Regions from separate parts of the Homo sapiens genome. Here region 2 is linked to region 1. A link means that fine-mapping ties the variant in region 1 to the expression of a gene that starts in the linked region. Tissue or cell type: blood mononuclear cells. Region 1 holds a variant in brackets; the other region holds the start of a gene. All regions are shown on one strand. Distances are from middle to middle.

The links. PIP is the estimated chance that this variant, and not a neighbour inherited with it, causes the effect.
Region 2: STX17 starts here. The variant in region 1 is fine-mapped to the expression of STX17 in blood mononuclear cells (TOPMed, PIP above 0.99).

Annotation. Positions count from the first base shown.
Region 1 is chr9:100,283,648-100,291,751 of GRCh38, reverse strand. INVS (inversin) reads right to left here. Exons shown (of 17, transcript NM_014425.5): 13 at 7,149-7,432. It overlaps LOC124902235 (a long non-coding RNA gene), which reads left to right and starts at 7,431. Exons shown (of 2, transcript XR_007061700.1): 1 at 7,431-8,104. RefSeq lists enhancers at 6,815-7,315, 7,316-7,816. The variant G/T (reference allele first, on the strand shown) is at 3,497.
Region 2 is chr9:99,902,118-99,910,221 of GRCh38, reverse strand. STX17 (syntaxin 17) reads right to left here and starts at 3,568. Exons shown (of 8, transcript NM_017919.3): 1 at 3,516-3,568. STX17-DT (STX17 divergent transcript) reads left to right here and starts at 3,621. Exons shown (of 3, transcript NR_038853.1): 1 at 3,621-3,668. RefSeq lists an enhancer at 3,030-3,269 and a silencer at 3,430-3,829.

The DNA.
Region 1 (8,104 bases):
AAGGAGTCTCCCATAAGAATTTAAAACCAAAGTCGTCTTCCTTACATGGGCTTGGTATTCATTTATTCTCAATCCATAGGAGATATTACTATAAAAACTGGTCTTAGGATGGAGATATCCCAGGATGCCTCACAGAAGCAAACACAATATTGCTTTAGTGTGACATGCCCTCAACTCAGGCTGCACAACGGAGTCCTCTGAAAATGACTTCACAATCCAAAATCACAAAATGCATGAGGAAACAATGTACCATAAGCAACAGTTAACACAATAGCAAGATCAGATCTCTCAAAACGTTAGCACACACACGTTGATTAAACACACAAAAGAAGTTTAAAATACGAGAAAAGGATAGATTTGAAAAACAAATACAACATCTAAACTGAAAAATATGCCAGGCACGGTGGCTCATGCCTGTAATCCCAGCACTTTGGGAGGCCGAGGCAGGAATCATGAGGTCAGGAGTTTGAGACCAGCCTGACCACCATGGTGAAATCTCGTCTCTACTAAAAATACGAAAATTAGCTGGGCATGGTGGCGCACGCGTGTAGTCCCAGCTACTTGGGAGGCTGAGGCAGGAGAATCGCTTGAACTCGGGAGGCAGAGGTTGCAGTGAGCTGAGACTGCACCACTGCACTCCAGCCTGGGTGACAGCGAGACTCCGTCTGAAAAAAAAAAAATTCTTAATAAAACAGGCACATAGATTATCCAGATAATGTGTTTTCAGAAACAGACTTTAAAATAACTGTTCTGGCTGGGTGCAGTGGGCCCAGCACCTTGGGAGGCTGAGGCAAGAGGATTGCTTGAGCCAAGTCTGAGACAAGCCGGGACAACATAGTGAGACCCCATTTCTAAAAATAAAACAAAAAAACAATTATCCAGACATGGTAGTGCATGCCTGTAGTCCCAGCTACTCAGAAGGCTGAGGTGAAAGGTCGCTTGAGGCTGGGAGGTTGAGGGTGCAGTGAGCTGTTTGTGCCACTGCACTCCAGCCTGAGCAACAGAGTGAGACTATGTCTCAATAATGTAAAATAAAATACTCTTAAGTGCAAAAGAGCTATCTAAACTATACTACTCTTCATGTAAGAAAGAAAGGGATGGGCTGGGTGTGATGGCTCACGCCTGTAATCCCAGCACTTTGGGAGGCCGAGGTGGGCAGATCACCTGAGGTCGGGAGTTCGAGACCAGCCTGACCGATGTGGAGAAACCCTGTCTCTACTAAAAATACAAAAAAATTAGCTGGACATGGTGGTGCATGCCTGTAATCCCAGCTACTCCGGAGGCTGAGGCAGGAGAATCACTTGAACCTGGGAGGCAGAGGTTGCGGTGAGCCAAGATTGCGCCACTGCACTCCAGCCTAGGCGACAAGAGCGAAACTCTGTCTCAAAGAAAGAAAGAAAGGGATATAAGAAAATATACCTATATCTGCTCATTTGTGAAAAAGAAATATAGAAAACATAAAGCAAAAACTAAAGAAATTGATTACCTGCAGGAGTTGAGTGGGAAAGAGGTGGAAAGAAAAGAGAAATGGGAGCTGGATAGTAGAGATGAAGAGGGAGTGAGAGACACTTCTCTGGCTCCACCTTTTTGTATAGCTCTGACTCTTAGAGCTGTTACAATGTTTCACATATATGCAACCCCCACCCCACCGGGCCAAAAAAAAAACTAAAACTACAAGATACCACTACACACCTATTAGAATGGCAAAAATCCAAAACAGTGACCAAATGCTGGTGGGGATGTGGAGCAATAAGAACTTTCATTCATTGCTGGTAGGAATGCAAAATGGTACATCCACTTTGGAAGACAGTTTGGCAGTTTCTTACAAAACTAAACATATTCTTACATAAGATCCAGCAATCACACTCCTTTATATTTACTCAAATAAGTTGAAAACTTATGTCCATACAAGCTGCACAGGGATGTTATAGTAGCTTTATTCATAACGGCCAAAACATGGAAGCAACCAAGATGTTTCTTCAGTAGGTGAATGGATAAACTGGGTGACATGCAGTTTCTGCCTTCTCTCAAGAGTACTGCTCTGAGAACAATATATGTAAGGAAGATAGTCTAACCTACTGGAGAACAAAAGGCCATATAAAGGAGAATAGAGACAGCCAACAGCCACCACCAATTGCCAGATATATGAAGGCGGCCATCTTGGCCACATCTTGTGCAAATTCTATCAACCTCATGAATGAGCCCAGGTGATCGAGAAGAGGAACTGCCCAGGTAGCCCATGGGACTGTGAGAAATAATAAACTTCTGTTGTTTTAAGCCACTTAGTTTTGGGAGTGTTTTATTATGCCACAAGAGATAACCAACACAGATATTTATATCTATAAAAGAGAGGTACTGTCTTAAAATACAAAACCCAGGGTATTGACTTTGGACTGGTTGGTGAGCAGAAGCTGGGAAGGCAATGAAGAGACTGCTGGTGAAGGCTCGAAGAGCAGAAAAGAAATTGCTGTTGGAATCTAGAGAGAAGTGAACCTTGTTATTCAGTGGCAGAATTAACTGGCAAAATTGTCACTTGCAGTAACATAGAAGATAGAAAATATACCTAATGGAGCTGTAGATACAGTTCAGGAAGTTTCCAGGTGGAATGTAGAACAAAATGTCAACTGCTTTTTAAGCTACATATGACAAAGTATGGGGAGAAAACAAATAAAATGAAGGAAAAACTGCTCCGTTTGTAAGCAAAATTTAGAGATAATGTAAAGATCCCGGGATGTGCTGGGTTAGAAAATAAAACTATTTTAACATTTTTATTCTTTCCAACCAGCAAAAGAGTCTCATAGGCCTCAGCATAAAGATCAAATCAGGGCGGACACAATAACTAACACTTATAAAATCCCAGCCCTTTGGGAGGCCAAGGCAGGTGGTTTGCTTGAGTCCAGGAGTTTGAGACCAGCCTGGGCAACATGATGAAATCTCATCTCTACAAAAAAGAAATGCAAAAAATTAGCCAGGCATGGTAGCGCACACCTATGGTCCTAGCCACCCGGGAGGCTGAGATGGGGGGATCACTTGAACCTGGGAGGCAGAGGTTGCAGTGAGCTGTGCTTGAACCACTGCACTCCAGCCTGGGTGACAGGGTGAGACCCTGTCTTAAAAAAAAAAAAAAGTATGGTTGTACAACCCTTTATTAAGACTCAAAAATATTTGAGGTGGTACATAATAGGCCCTCTCAGCTCGACAAAAAAATTTCTAAGAATCTCAAGGGCATTTTCCCACAGAAATCTAAGCCACTCAAATTAGAGCAAAGCTTGTTTGAAAAATAATGGATGTGGCTTTTGAAATATGAAATGAATCCAATCAGATTCGCAGGAAACCCATGAAGTTTTTGAGATAATCGCATTATTGAGAGTACCACAAGCTTGAACTGGTGACATAGTTCAAATCAAAAAGAAGCCTCTGGGGCCCCAGTATCCTATAGTCAGGAGATAGGCTGAGAAAGCTACTCAGCTGCAAACATGGGCATTTCTTAGGAAAA[G/T]GAAGGACTTCTCAGAGAGCAGAGCCAAGAATTCAGGTAGCAGAGCCAAGAGACATGGAGAACAATGGAATAGGAAGCCACCAGGAGTAATATGAGACCCTAATCAAGGAATATTTACCTCAGAGTAGGGGCCCTGGTAAAATGTGACCAGCTGGTTTTCAGAATTGCTACGGACTAATGGCTGCTATACGCCTCCTATTCCACCCTCTTTTGTCTACTGTGGTTATTCTGTTCCTGTCTTACCACTGTTTGTTGGGTGTGGGGGGTGTTGATAATGTATCTTTTTGGCTCATTGGTCTCTGAATCAGAAAGAGTCCCAGCTGGTGAACCTGAACCACATCTAGTTCATGTCTTAAAATCCTAGACTTCAAGTGTGATGAGATAATCAGGATGAGATTTTGGGGTACTGAGATAGGGATGTATTAGTCCGTTCCTACACTGCTATAAAGAACTACCTGAGACTGGGTAATTTATAAAGAAAAGAGGTTTAATCGACTCACAGTTCCACAGGCCTAACAGGAAGCACAACTGGGAGGCCTCAGGAAACCTACAATCATGGTGGAAGGCAAAGGGGAAGCAAGCACCTTCTTCACATGGTAGCAGGAGAGAGCATGAGCGAGCGGGGAAGTGCCACACACATTTAAACCATGAGATCTTGTAAGAACTCACTATCATGATCCAATTACCTCCCACCAAGTCCCTCCCCGAACACTGGGAATTTGGGTGGGGACACAGAGCCAATCCATATCAAGGGGTAAGAATATCTTGCATGTGGGAGGAATGTGAATAATCTGTGACCAAATAGGAACTATGACAGATTGTTTAATAGCCAAAAATTCCTCCCATCTTAGTATGCACAAAGGTGGAATCTATTTCTCGACATCATTTGGTCTGGGATGGTCTCGTAACTTGCTTTGATCAATATAATGTGTGCAAATTCTAGAGTCTATTTCTCAAGAGGTCTTGTGGCTTTTATCTTCGCTTTCTGAAAATGCTGTCCTGAGACCACAATGTAAGGAAGCCAGTCTAGTCTACTGGAGGATGAAAACCACGTAAACCAGAGTCAAGGAATCCCATCTGATAGCCAGCATCAATTGCTAGACATTTAAGTGACTATATCTTAGACATGGAATTCCACTGACTCTCCACCTGAATGCAGACACATGAGTGAGACCAGATGAAGCCCGTAAACAAACTTCCCAACCAAAATAGAATCATAAAAATTAAATTGTCATTGTTCAAAGTCACTTTGTTTTTGTGTGGTTTGTTATACAGCAGTAGATAATGGAAGCAACCCTACTCTTACAGATCTTGCAGTTTGGTGGAAAAAATGACAAGTAAACCAGTAATAACAGTAAAAAGTGATGATCTTTATAAGAGGGAAGTATAGGAGAAGTATGGAAGCAATAGCAGGAAACTATAGCCTCCTTTAGCGGGGAGATATTGGTTGAACAGAAGAAGAAACATTATCCCTGATATCTAAAAAATAAGGTAGAGGGAGTGGCATCTGCAAAGGCCCCAAGCTAAGAAAGAACTCAAGGAAGTTCAACATGGCTGTCACATTATGGGAGCTTAATTAAAGCTGGTTGGATGAATAAATGAATGAATATGTACCAAAGCATCATGAGTATATAATCCTTAAGGATTACACTGTAAAGTGGATTATGGAATTATATTCCAGAAATGTTTATATTCATTTTAGATATATATATTTTTTGAGACAGAGTCTCACTGTCACCCAGGCTGGAGTGCAGTGACGCAATCTCGGTTCACTGCAACTTCCGCCTCTCAAGTTCAAGCAATTCTTGTGATTCAGCCTCCTGAGTTGCATGCACCACGATGCCTGGCTAATTTGTATATTTTTAGTAGAGATGGAGTTTCGCCAAGTTGGCCAGGCTGGTCTTGAACTCCTGGCCTCAAGTAATCCACCTGCCCCAGCCTCCCAAAGTGTTGGGATTATAGGTGTGAGTCACTGCACCCGGCCTGTAGTCATTTTATGTATACTTTTCTGTAGTTGTTCTTGGCTAGATTAATGAGTGGCTCAATAATAATAGTTACTGAAAACCTATGATGAGTTATGGGCTATAACAAGTACACTACATGAATTATTTCTATCCATAGCTACCTTGTGGTGTAGAAAGTATACCCTCACTTTATAGCTAAGGAAGTTAAGGTTCAAAGAAACAGATTGAACTGTCCAAGCCCTGAATTCAGTAATCATGAAGTTCCAGAGCCCCTTTCTGAGAAAGTCCATAAGGTCAGGGCTATTTTCATAATAATACGAAGACATTATTTGCCTTTTTCACTGTGTTGGCATTTGCACTTAGATTTTGGGAAAGCTCCTACCGTTCTCTAACTTATAAGAGTAGCTCAGTGTGTTTAAATTGCTTCGTGCAAACAATAGGGTTCGTGCTGCACACCTTTCCTTCTGGGAGTCTGGAATTTTGGCATATGCTAGGCAGAGGGTATCTATGTGACTGACTCCAGATAAAAATCCTGGAGTCCTAGGTTCATGTGAGCTTTCTTTGTCAACAAAAGATTGTCTGACTGGTTGTTACAATTTATTGCAGAAGGAATTAAACGTGTTGTGTGTGACTCCACTGGGAGAGAGCCGTTGGAAGCTCGTGCCTAATTTCCTCTGGACATTGCTCCATACACCTTTTCTCTTTGCTCATTTTGCTTTGTGTCCCTTTGTTATAATAAATCCTAACTGGGAGTACAACTATATGCTCAGTCAAACTAGTAAATCCTCCAACCTCACCAAACCTGGTGGTAGTCTTGGGGATGGGGATCATGGGGATCCCTGACACACAAGTAAACTCTAAATAGGATAAACTGCAAAAAGCCATGCCAAGACACATCATATTAAACTTCTGAAAGCTAATGATAAATTTTAAGATCTTGAAAGCAGCCAGAGAGAAATGACATATTACCTAGGACTGTTACTGAGAAACACCAATTTGAATGACAGTGGATTTCTCATCTGAAACCATGGAAGCCAAAAGGAAATGGCACAATATTTTTCAAGTGCTAAAAGAAAAGAACTGCCAACCCTGAATTCTATATCTGGCTTAATGATTCTTCAGGAATCAAATAAAAACATTCTCAGACAAAGGAAAACTGAAAGAATTTGTTGCTAGCAGACATACCCTTAAAGATTGGCCATAGAAAGCTCTTCATACAGAAAGGAAATGATACAAGAATCTTAGAGCATCAGGAAGGAAGAAGAAACAACAGAAGAGCAGAAATACAGGCGGGCGCATAAAATGTTATTTCCTTTGTGAGTTTTATAAATTGTATTTCATGATTGAAACAAAATTTATAACACCATCCGATACCTAAGCAATGAAACGTAAAAGTGGACAAAGTGAATGGAAGTGAGGTTTTCACACTTCACTCTAAAAAAGAAAAGAAAACAAAAAACCATAAATCAATCAAGATAGAATTTTTAAAAATGCTGAAGTAACCTACAGGAAGGGAAAAAAAAGAAAAAGAACTGAGAACCAGAGGAAACAAGTAGAACACAAATCATAAAGTGGCGGTCCTAGGTGCTAATATAACAATTATCTTAAGTGTAATTGGTCTAAATACACCAATCAAAAAAGCCCACAGTCCATGGGCCGGCAGAAGATGACAAAGGCAATACACCTACCATTTGGCCTTCTGGAGTTTGTTCCCTGCAAATCTGAGGAAACATGCTGCTCCTTCTGGAGGGCTCCGCCTAGAGACCCTCCTGGAGATCCTCTGCTGTCTCTTGGCTCAGGGCCTTGGGCCACGTTGCCAGCAGGAGGCTGCTTGCTGGGGGCCCGGCTCTGCCTGCTGGGCACATCCTGGGTGCTAGGCAGACAGGGAAGGGCCTGGGGTCTGCAGGAATCTGGGCTCCGCCTTCCTTTTTGCTGTTCTGCCTCTTTTCGTTTGTTTTCTTCCTCTCGCTTTCTGGAAGCAAAGCCAAAGAAGAAGATGAAAAAATTTAAAGAGTATCACCTCCTCAAGTCTCTGTGTGAGTTTAAATTTTAAGAGGAGCTACTACATCACAGGAGATATTTGGAAATTTGCATTTTCCAAGAGCAGTCTTTTCTCCAGATAAAATAAAAACCATCTCTTTTACACCAGGCCTTATAGCCCAAAAGATGATGGAGCAGAAAAGTTTATAGATCAGTCTTTGTGCTGTTGAGACACATGACAGATAACCAGGCAACTTTTCTGTGTGAAACATAACACACTCCCAACGGTGTATGTGCCCCAAGCTTATGTGTGATCCCTGGAGCTACCTGTAACTCCACCCATTTTTCTCCTGTTTCAGAAAGCACACCAGAATGCTACCGAGAATGACAGTCAAAGGGATAACCTTGAATCTGCTCTATTCATTTAAAAAAGCCCATCAAACCTTAATGATCATATAAAAAGTCACTTGCAAAGTACCTTGCCAGTGATTAAAACACACCTGTGAGTTGCAGATGCTGCCGTTGACAGCTCTAGCTAATGAGTCAGATCCACTCATTTTACAGATGAGACCCAGAAGGTAGGGTGATTTTCAAAAAGTCACACATAAGTAGCTGGTGGCAAAGCTGGAACCCTTGGGTAGCAGGAGAACAGAGAAGGGCTGGG
Region 2 (8,104 bases), 380 kb after region 1:
TCACTCTTTTGCCCAGGCTGGAGTGAAGTGGTGCGATCTCAGCTCACTGCAACCTCCGCCCCTTAGGTTCAAGTGACTCTCCTGCCTCAGCCTCCCAAGTAGCTGGGATTACAGGCACGTGCCACCACGCCCAGCTAATTTTTGTATTTTTAGTAGAGACGGGGTTTCACCATGTTGGCCAGGCTGGTCTCGAACTCCCGACCTCAGGTGATCCACCTGCCTCGGCCTCCCAAAGTGCTAGGATTACAAGTGTGAGGCACCATGCCCAGCTGCATTTCTTCTTTTTTTAATTTTTAATTTTTGTGGGTATATATTAGTAGTAGGTATATATTTATGGGATATTTGAGTTATTTTGATACAGGCATACAATGTGTAATAATCACATTAGGGTAAATGAGGTATCCATCACCTCAAGCATTTATTCTTTGTGTTGCAAACAATCCAGTTATACTCTTTTAGTTATTTTTAAATATACAATTGAATTATTATAGTCACCCTGTTCGGCTATCAAGTACTATATTTTATTCATCCTCTATCACTATTTTTTTGTACTCATTGCATTTCTTCTTTCATGAATTGCCTGTTCATGTCATATGCATCTGTTTTTACTACAGGGGATGTCTTTCTCTTATTAACTCATAAAAGGCTATTACATGTTAAATGTATCAATTATTTGTCTAACATTAACATTTCCCAATCTATCACACTGCCTCTTTTCTTTTCTTCTATACCACAAAGAGATTATCTTTATATCTACCATCATTCCTATCAAAATGTTTTTTGAACACACCTGTTGTTCAATAGATGCTGCCTGAACTAAAATATTTCTTCACACGTCCCTTCTATACAATTGCTAATCCTATCACTCTAGTCAAATAGCACAATATGCATAGCCATGATAATGGAGCTTCAATTAGTCTACCTTTAGACTCTTTCCCTCCAAAATGGAATATAAACTATAAAAACATAAACTGTATTATAAACGAATAGCATAACCACACTGAAAGAAGTGAGGAAGAAAAATTATCTAAGCCACTTTAGAAAACAATATTTTAACTGAATACTATAAGCCTAGAGACAAAAAGAACTACACTGTACTCTATTTAGTAAATGTGTTTCTCACAGGAACATAGGTCAGAAATCCTGAAATTACTTTATGTGTATACTAGGACTGAAGAAATAAGAAAATATTTTGTAGAATGCCAAGAGTCAGATTTCTCACTGTCAGATAAAAAGTTAAAAATAAGGGACAAAACTAGAATGAACCCTGTGGTGTTAGACTAGAAGCAAAGCTACTGGGATGAACTTTTGTTTTTAAAAAGTATATGGATAGACAAATACAGAAATAAACATAGATCTTTGTGTATGCATGGGTATGCATATGTATAGACTGGTGTCTTCTGTGGGGCCCTGGAAGCAATGTTACCCCAGTAGCAATGAGCATCCCTAGAGCACAGATCTTTGTGTTTAAATACTATTCTCCAAAAAAAGAAACTACGGGTCGTTGGAGAAGTGGCTGACTATCAGGGCTGAGGCACAGAAAACACAAGATGAGCCTGGGGCATCCTATGGTACCAGAAAATTAGGAAGTTCCAAAAAAGAAAAAAAAGGATGGAAGCATGCTGAAAAGCTACAGAAAGCAACCTGAAAGAAAACTCCCAATGATCAAAGCTGGAACAATTTCAAACATAAAATAACACAAGTGTAGGATAACAACCAATAGAAAAACATCTAAGTCCACATGGATACAAATAAATAACGGAATACAAATAAACAAATGGGAAATGGGCAGCTCATCCTTACAGAATAATTTCAATTAATAAAGAAATGAGGAAAGTAGAAAATCATCATTAGAACACCATAGTCATAATAATTGCTGAAGGCAAGATCCACCAATGGATGTGAAATTTAGCAAGGGAAAGTCTGAGGAGAAACAGGATATGCGTACGGTTTAAAAGCTCCCCCCCAAGATGTCAATTATAAGGAGAAAAATAAGACCTTTACATTGGAGAATCCCAGCAGACACTCTCTACCAAGTGATCAAGATTAACCTCACGAGCAATAAGTCATATATATCAGCTATGCTCATATGATGAACTGAGAAGGGCACACACACTTTTGTGTTCTTAACAAAAATGTATAACCTTAATCTAATCATGAGAGAACACTGGACAAACCCCATTTGAGGGGCACTCTACAAAATAACTGACCAGCATTCTTCAAAAGTGTAAAGATCAGAAAGAGTATAAAGACAGAAAAAGACTATCAGTGTAAAGACAGGAAAAGACAGAGGAACTGTCACAGACTGGAGGAGACCAAGGACCCAAGACAACTAACTGCAATGTCGGGTCTTAGAGTGGATCCTAGAATAGAAAAAGGACATTAATACAGGAAAAAAAATCACAAGTTAGTAATTCAGTTAATAGTATTATACTAATATTAACTTCTTGCTTTTGATAATTGCGCTATGGTATGTAAAAAATTATTAATGGAGGCAATAGGGAACTCTGTATTACTTTTGAAACTTTTCTGTAATTTTAAAATTATTTCAAAATAAAAAAGTTTTTTAGTATAAGAGGATGTTTCACGTAAGACAGGTAAAAACATTTAGAAGTCAAAGAACTGCCATCGTATTCACTGCATTAATACTTGGAGAGAGGGGTGCCAGGACTGTGCCAGGTGCTTTACAAACTTTATCATGTAGTGCTTACAACTAATATGAGATGGGTACCATAATACTCATGTTTCCCAGTAAGTTACTTAGGAGGTTATTAATAAGTGAAAGACCCCATTTCTCAGGAAACCCAGCCCCCAAAAGTGACGAACACCTTCCATCGGCCCAGAGCTCCCACTTTTCAGGATACTAGTGGCGCCCGATTTCTTCCGGCCCGCCGCTTAATGTTTCTGACTTATGGAAGAGATACCGAATTTGGAGAGAAAAGTCAAAGTAAAGTCTCCTCTCTGAACCTCGGTTAGCTAAAAGGAGGGAGCCAAGGTGTGGGACCTTCTGCCAACCACCTCTGGGTTTGGCGAGCAGGGGCTTCCGGCCTCTCGCTCCCAGTCCTCCGAGCCTCACTACCATCGAGCGTCGCGTCATTCCTCGCAGTGTCACCCACAGCACACCTGGGCCACACACACCAAACGCCCCCACCAGCGAACGGATGCGCGGGTCTGTCCCGGGACCCAGACGCCAGCGACCCTGGCGACCCGGGGCCTACAGCGCGCCAGAGACAGGACGCGCGCCGGAAACTTTTCCACCCCGCGACCCCGGGAGGCCGTCCTGCTCGCATCGTCTGCGGCCTCCCTATACCAGCTTCCAATAAAGCTTCCAAAAACGAAACCAAGCGAGGCTCCGCCACTTCTGAAAAACAGGAGGAGCCACCATGGCGCTCGCACTTCGGATCCAATGCCCTACTTGCCGCCCAGCGCCTCTTGCGCGCGCCACACGGGCGCCAGGCCCACCAAGCCTGTGAGGGCCCGACGCCCCCAAAGGCGGCCTCCAGAGAGCCCCTTACCTCCCGCCGGGGCGCTCGAGGCCGGTCGGTGGGCACGGCGCAGGCGCAGGAGCGACGGGGCGGGGCATCACGAGGGGTGGGCAGGGTTGGGCCCCGCCCCCGCCCCCGCCCCCGCCCCGCAGGGCCCCCAGGCCGGGCGCTGGGGGCGCACAGGTGAGTACAAATGCGGACGCTGCTGAGAACAGCGAAAGCCTTTTTCAAAAGTGATATTGATTTACGTTATGGGGTTGTGACTCGAGCCAAGAGGAGAGAGACGCACAAACGCTCTTTAGGTCTGCTTGTTGTGTTTAAGACAATTCATGCTTGTATGGCCGACTGCATTTCGCAGTTTTCCTGTCCGTTTTCCTCTGTTCTTCCTAGAATTTTATTTGCGGGTTGGGCATGTATTCTTAGCTCTGTTTTGAAACTGAAGCTCAGAAAGGTGGTGCCTCCCCATCCCGTCCCCAAAAGCCCTGTGAAGTGGACAGGGCAGGAGTGCCATCTTAATTGCAACAGGTGTAAAAATTAAAGCTCAGCAAATTGTGGTTTCCTCCAAAAACTGGTGGAGGGCTTAAGGCAAACGTCTTTATCCCGATTTTATAGATTATGACTCTGGGGTTTAACAAAGAGTTTTAAGTGACTCACTCCAGTTCAGCCAGCTTATGGCAGAGCTGGAACTCCAACTGGGTGTCCTAATTTCCTTCCCAAGTTATTCCAGTTAGACCAGCTGCAACCACATGAACAAGCAGGTGGCCGGCTTTGAAGCCTTGTCCAAGTCACAGGTCCTCCTCTCTTCATGGCCTAACTTCCAGATCCAGCCCTTTTAAAAAGATGTCTGTGAATATTCAGATGACGTGCTTAGAATGTATTCACTAATGGCATTGTCTCAGAAGTGATCAGGATGTTCAAACCACAGTTAAGGAAACTGAGTTCTTAGGGTCTTCCAGTAGAGTAGGAGGTAAACAGGGAAGATTAGGGGCCTGTAGATCCTTTAAAAAGCCTTGAAAGACAATTTCTAAAACAAAGCACCAAATCTACCAAGCAATTTGGATTTTCTTTGGGGACATAATGTATACTGATATTTGTTTTACAATGAGCTCCAGAATGTATTTATCAAATTTTGATTCTAAGGAGAAAAATTAAAGTATTAGGCAATACTGTGAGAAAATGTTTTTTATGCAAGGATCAGTGAAATAAGATCTTTTGAAATAAAAGATCATTTGTGTTAAGTTCTGAAAAAGCTTCCTCAGGTACAAAATCAGGAGGTGTGGTACTCAAAGATTCTAAATTTGGACCTGGACTTCTAAGTTGTTATATGTATGTTTGCTGTAAGTTAGGTGTGTCAAAGTAGTAGGATAAACATTTTTTTTTTTTTTTTTTTTTTAGACAGAGTCTTGCTCTTTCGCCCAGGCTGGAGTGCAGTGGCATGATCTCAGCTCACTGCAACCTCCACCTCCCAGATTCAAGCGATTATCCTGTGTCAGCCTCCTGAGTAGCTGGGACTACAGGCGTGTGCCAACATGCCCGGCTAATTTTTTGTATTTTTAATAGAGACAGAGTTTCACCATGTTAGCCAGGATGGTCTTGATCTCCTGACCTCGTGATCCGCCCGCCTCGGCCTCCCAAAGTACTGGGATTACAGGTGTGAGCCACCATGCCCGACCAAAACCTTTTAATCTAACTGTTGGTTAGCTTGATTTATAATCTTTAAATATTCAAACATATGGTGTGTGGACCTCTTTTGTGTACTCTAGGTCATCAAGTTGTTAGGGGCAGGCCTGCTACTACTGGCCGACATTTTCCTGAAGTCCTAACTGAACCCAGCAAGTCCAAACAAAACATTAAGTGTATATGTTGGAAAGAAAATTAAAAAAAATTCTTAGGGTGTTATGATTGATTGCTTTCTTGGAAAATCCATGGAATAAACTGAAACTAATTCAATAAGATGGCTATAAAATACCTCTCCTAAACAACAATCATCAATTTTAAAATGTAATGAGAAGAAGACTGGGCGTGATGGCTCATGCCTATAATCTCAGCACTTTGGGAGGCCAATGAGGGAGGATTGCTTGAGGCTAGAAATTCAAGACCAACCTGGGCAAAATAGTGAGACCCCATTTCTAAAAAAAACAAAAAAAACGTAGCTGGGTATGGTGGCATGTACCTATAATCCCAGCTACTCAGGAGGCTGAAACAGGAGGATCAGTTGAGCCCAGGAGTTTGAGGCTGGAATGAACTATGATCCCACCAGCCTGCACTCCAGCCTGCAGAAAAGACTGACACCCTGTCTCAAAAAAAAAAAAAAAAAAAAAAATTGAAATGTACTGGGAGGAAGATTACATTCAAAAATGACAAAAATCAAGTTTGTGTTTATAAGGAATTACAAGACCTATTTGAAGAATTGAGAATAATAGCTAGATGAGGGATAGGGGTGGAAGGAAGGATCACAAAGGGGCATAAGGAAACTTTGGGAGTGATAGAAATGTTCATTATCTTGATTGTGGTAATAGCTGCATGGACGTATATATATGTCAAAACTTACCAAATTGTACACTGTAAATATGTTTATGTATAAGTGCTTATTGTATGTGAATTATACCTAAATAAAGCCATGTAAAAAGGGAGGGGGGAAGAAGTAGCTTTTTATTTGATTGCATGTGATGTGTAAAGCACTTGGTTAGGCGCTTTACATGCAATATGTTATTTAATACTGATGACAACCCATGAAGTAGGTATTACAATCACCCCCTTCATACAAACTAGGAAATTGAGGCTTAGAGAGTAACTTGACCAAGGTCCAAGTCTCATATACTACATAACAGGAGTAAGACTCAAATCTTACGTAACAGTATTTATACTTTAACCTGACTTCCATATTTCCATATAAGATACAAGTAAAGACTTGACTATGTGGAAAAGTAATACAGTCAATATTGTAAAGTTGTCCATTTCCACCAAACTAACTTAAAAATTTATCAAAATCCCATTATGATTTTTCTCTTTCTTTTTCTTTCTTTCTTGTTTTTCTTTCTTTTCTTTCTTTTTTCCTTCCTTCCTTCCCTTCCTTCCCTTTCTTTTCCTTTCCTTTCTTATTTCCTTCCTTCCTTCCCTTTTTTCCTTTCCTTTCTTATTTCCTTCCTTCCTTTTCCTTTCCTTTCTTATTTCCTTCCCTCCCTTCCTTCCTTCCTTCGTGTTTTGTTTTGAGATAGAATCTTGCTTTGTCACCCAGACTAGAGTGCAATGGGGGTGATCATGGTTCACTGCAGCCTTGACCTCCTCCTGCCTCAGCTTCCCAAGAAGCTGGAACCACAGGTGTATGCCACTATGCTGGGCTAATTTTATTTTTCTAGAAATTGGGACTCCCTGTGTTGCCCAGTCTAGTCTCCAATTCCTGAGCTCAAGTGATCCTCCTACCTCAGCCTCCCAAAGTGCTAGGATTACAGGTGTGTGCCACCACACCAGGCCCCCTTTATGATTTCTATAATAAAACATTTTAAAAAATCCAAATTGATTTTGCAACTATTACTCTTTCTTCTTAGAATGCCATTTTTTGCCTGCTTTCCCCCATCTCTTTCCCCCCACCCCAGAGTAAAGAAATTACTCTTTATTCTGCTGGACTCAAAAGTCATCTCACCTAGGAAGCTTCTCCCACTGATATGGTTTGGCTCTGTGTCCCCACCCAAATCTCATCTTGAATTGTACTTCCATAATTCCTACATGTTGTGGGAAGGACCTGGTGGGATATAATTTGAATCATGGGAGATAATTTGAATCATGGGGGCGATTTCCCCCATACTGTTCTCATGGTAGTAAATAAGTCTCAAGAGATCTGATGGTTTTATCAGGGGTTTCCACACTTTTGCATCTTCCTCATTTTCTCTTGCTGCTGCCATGTAAGAAGTGCCTTTCACCTCCCGCCATGACTCTGAGGCCTCCCCAGCCATGTGGAACTGTAAGTCCAAATACAGTTCTTCTGTATTTCTTCCCAGTCTTGGGTATGTCTTTATCAGCAGCATGAAAATGGACTAATACAGTAAATTGGTACCAGTAGAGTGGGGCGTTGCTGAAAAGGTACCCAAAAATGTGGAAGCAACTTTGGAACTGGTTATCAGGCAGAGGTTGGAACAGTTTGGAGGGCTCGGAAGAAGACAGGAAAGTGTGGGAAAGTTTGGAGCCTCCTAGAGACTTGTTGAATGACTTTGACAAAAATGCTGATCGTGATATTAACAATAAGGTCCAGGCTGAGGTGGTCTCAGATAGAGATGAGGAACTTGTTGGGAACTGGAGCAAAAGTGACTCTCGTTATATTTTAGCAGAGACTGCCAGCATTTTGCCCCTGCCCTGGAGATTTGTGGAGCTTTGAACTTGAGAGAGATGATTTAGGGTATCTGGTGGAAGAAATTTCTAAACAGCAAAGTATTCAAGAGGTGTCTTGGGTGCTGTTAAAGGTATTCAGTTTTATCAGGGAAGCAGAGCATAATAGTTTGGAAAATTTGTAGCCTGACAATGTGACAGAAAAGAAAATCCCATTTTCAGAGGAGAAAGTCAAGCTGTCTGCAGAAATTTGCATAAGTAATGAGGAGCCAAATGTTAATCGCCAAGACAATGGG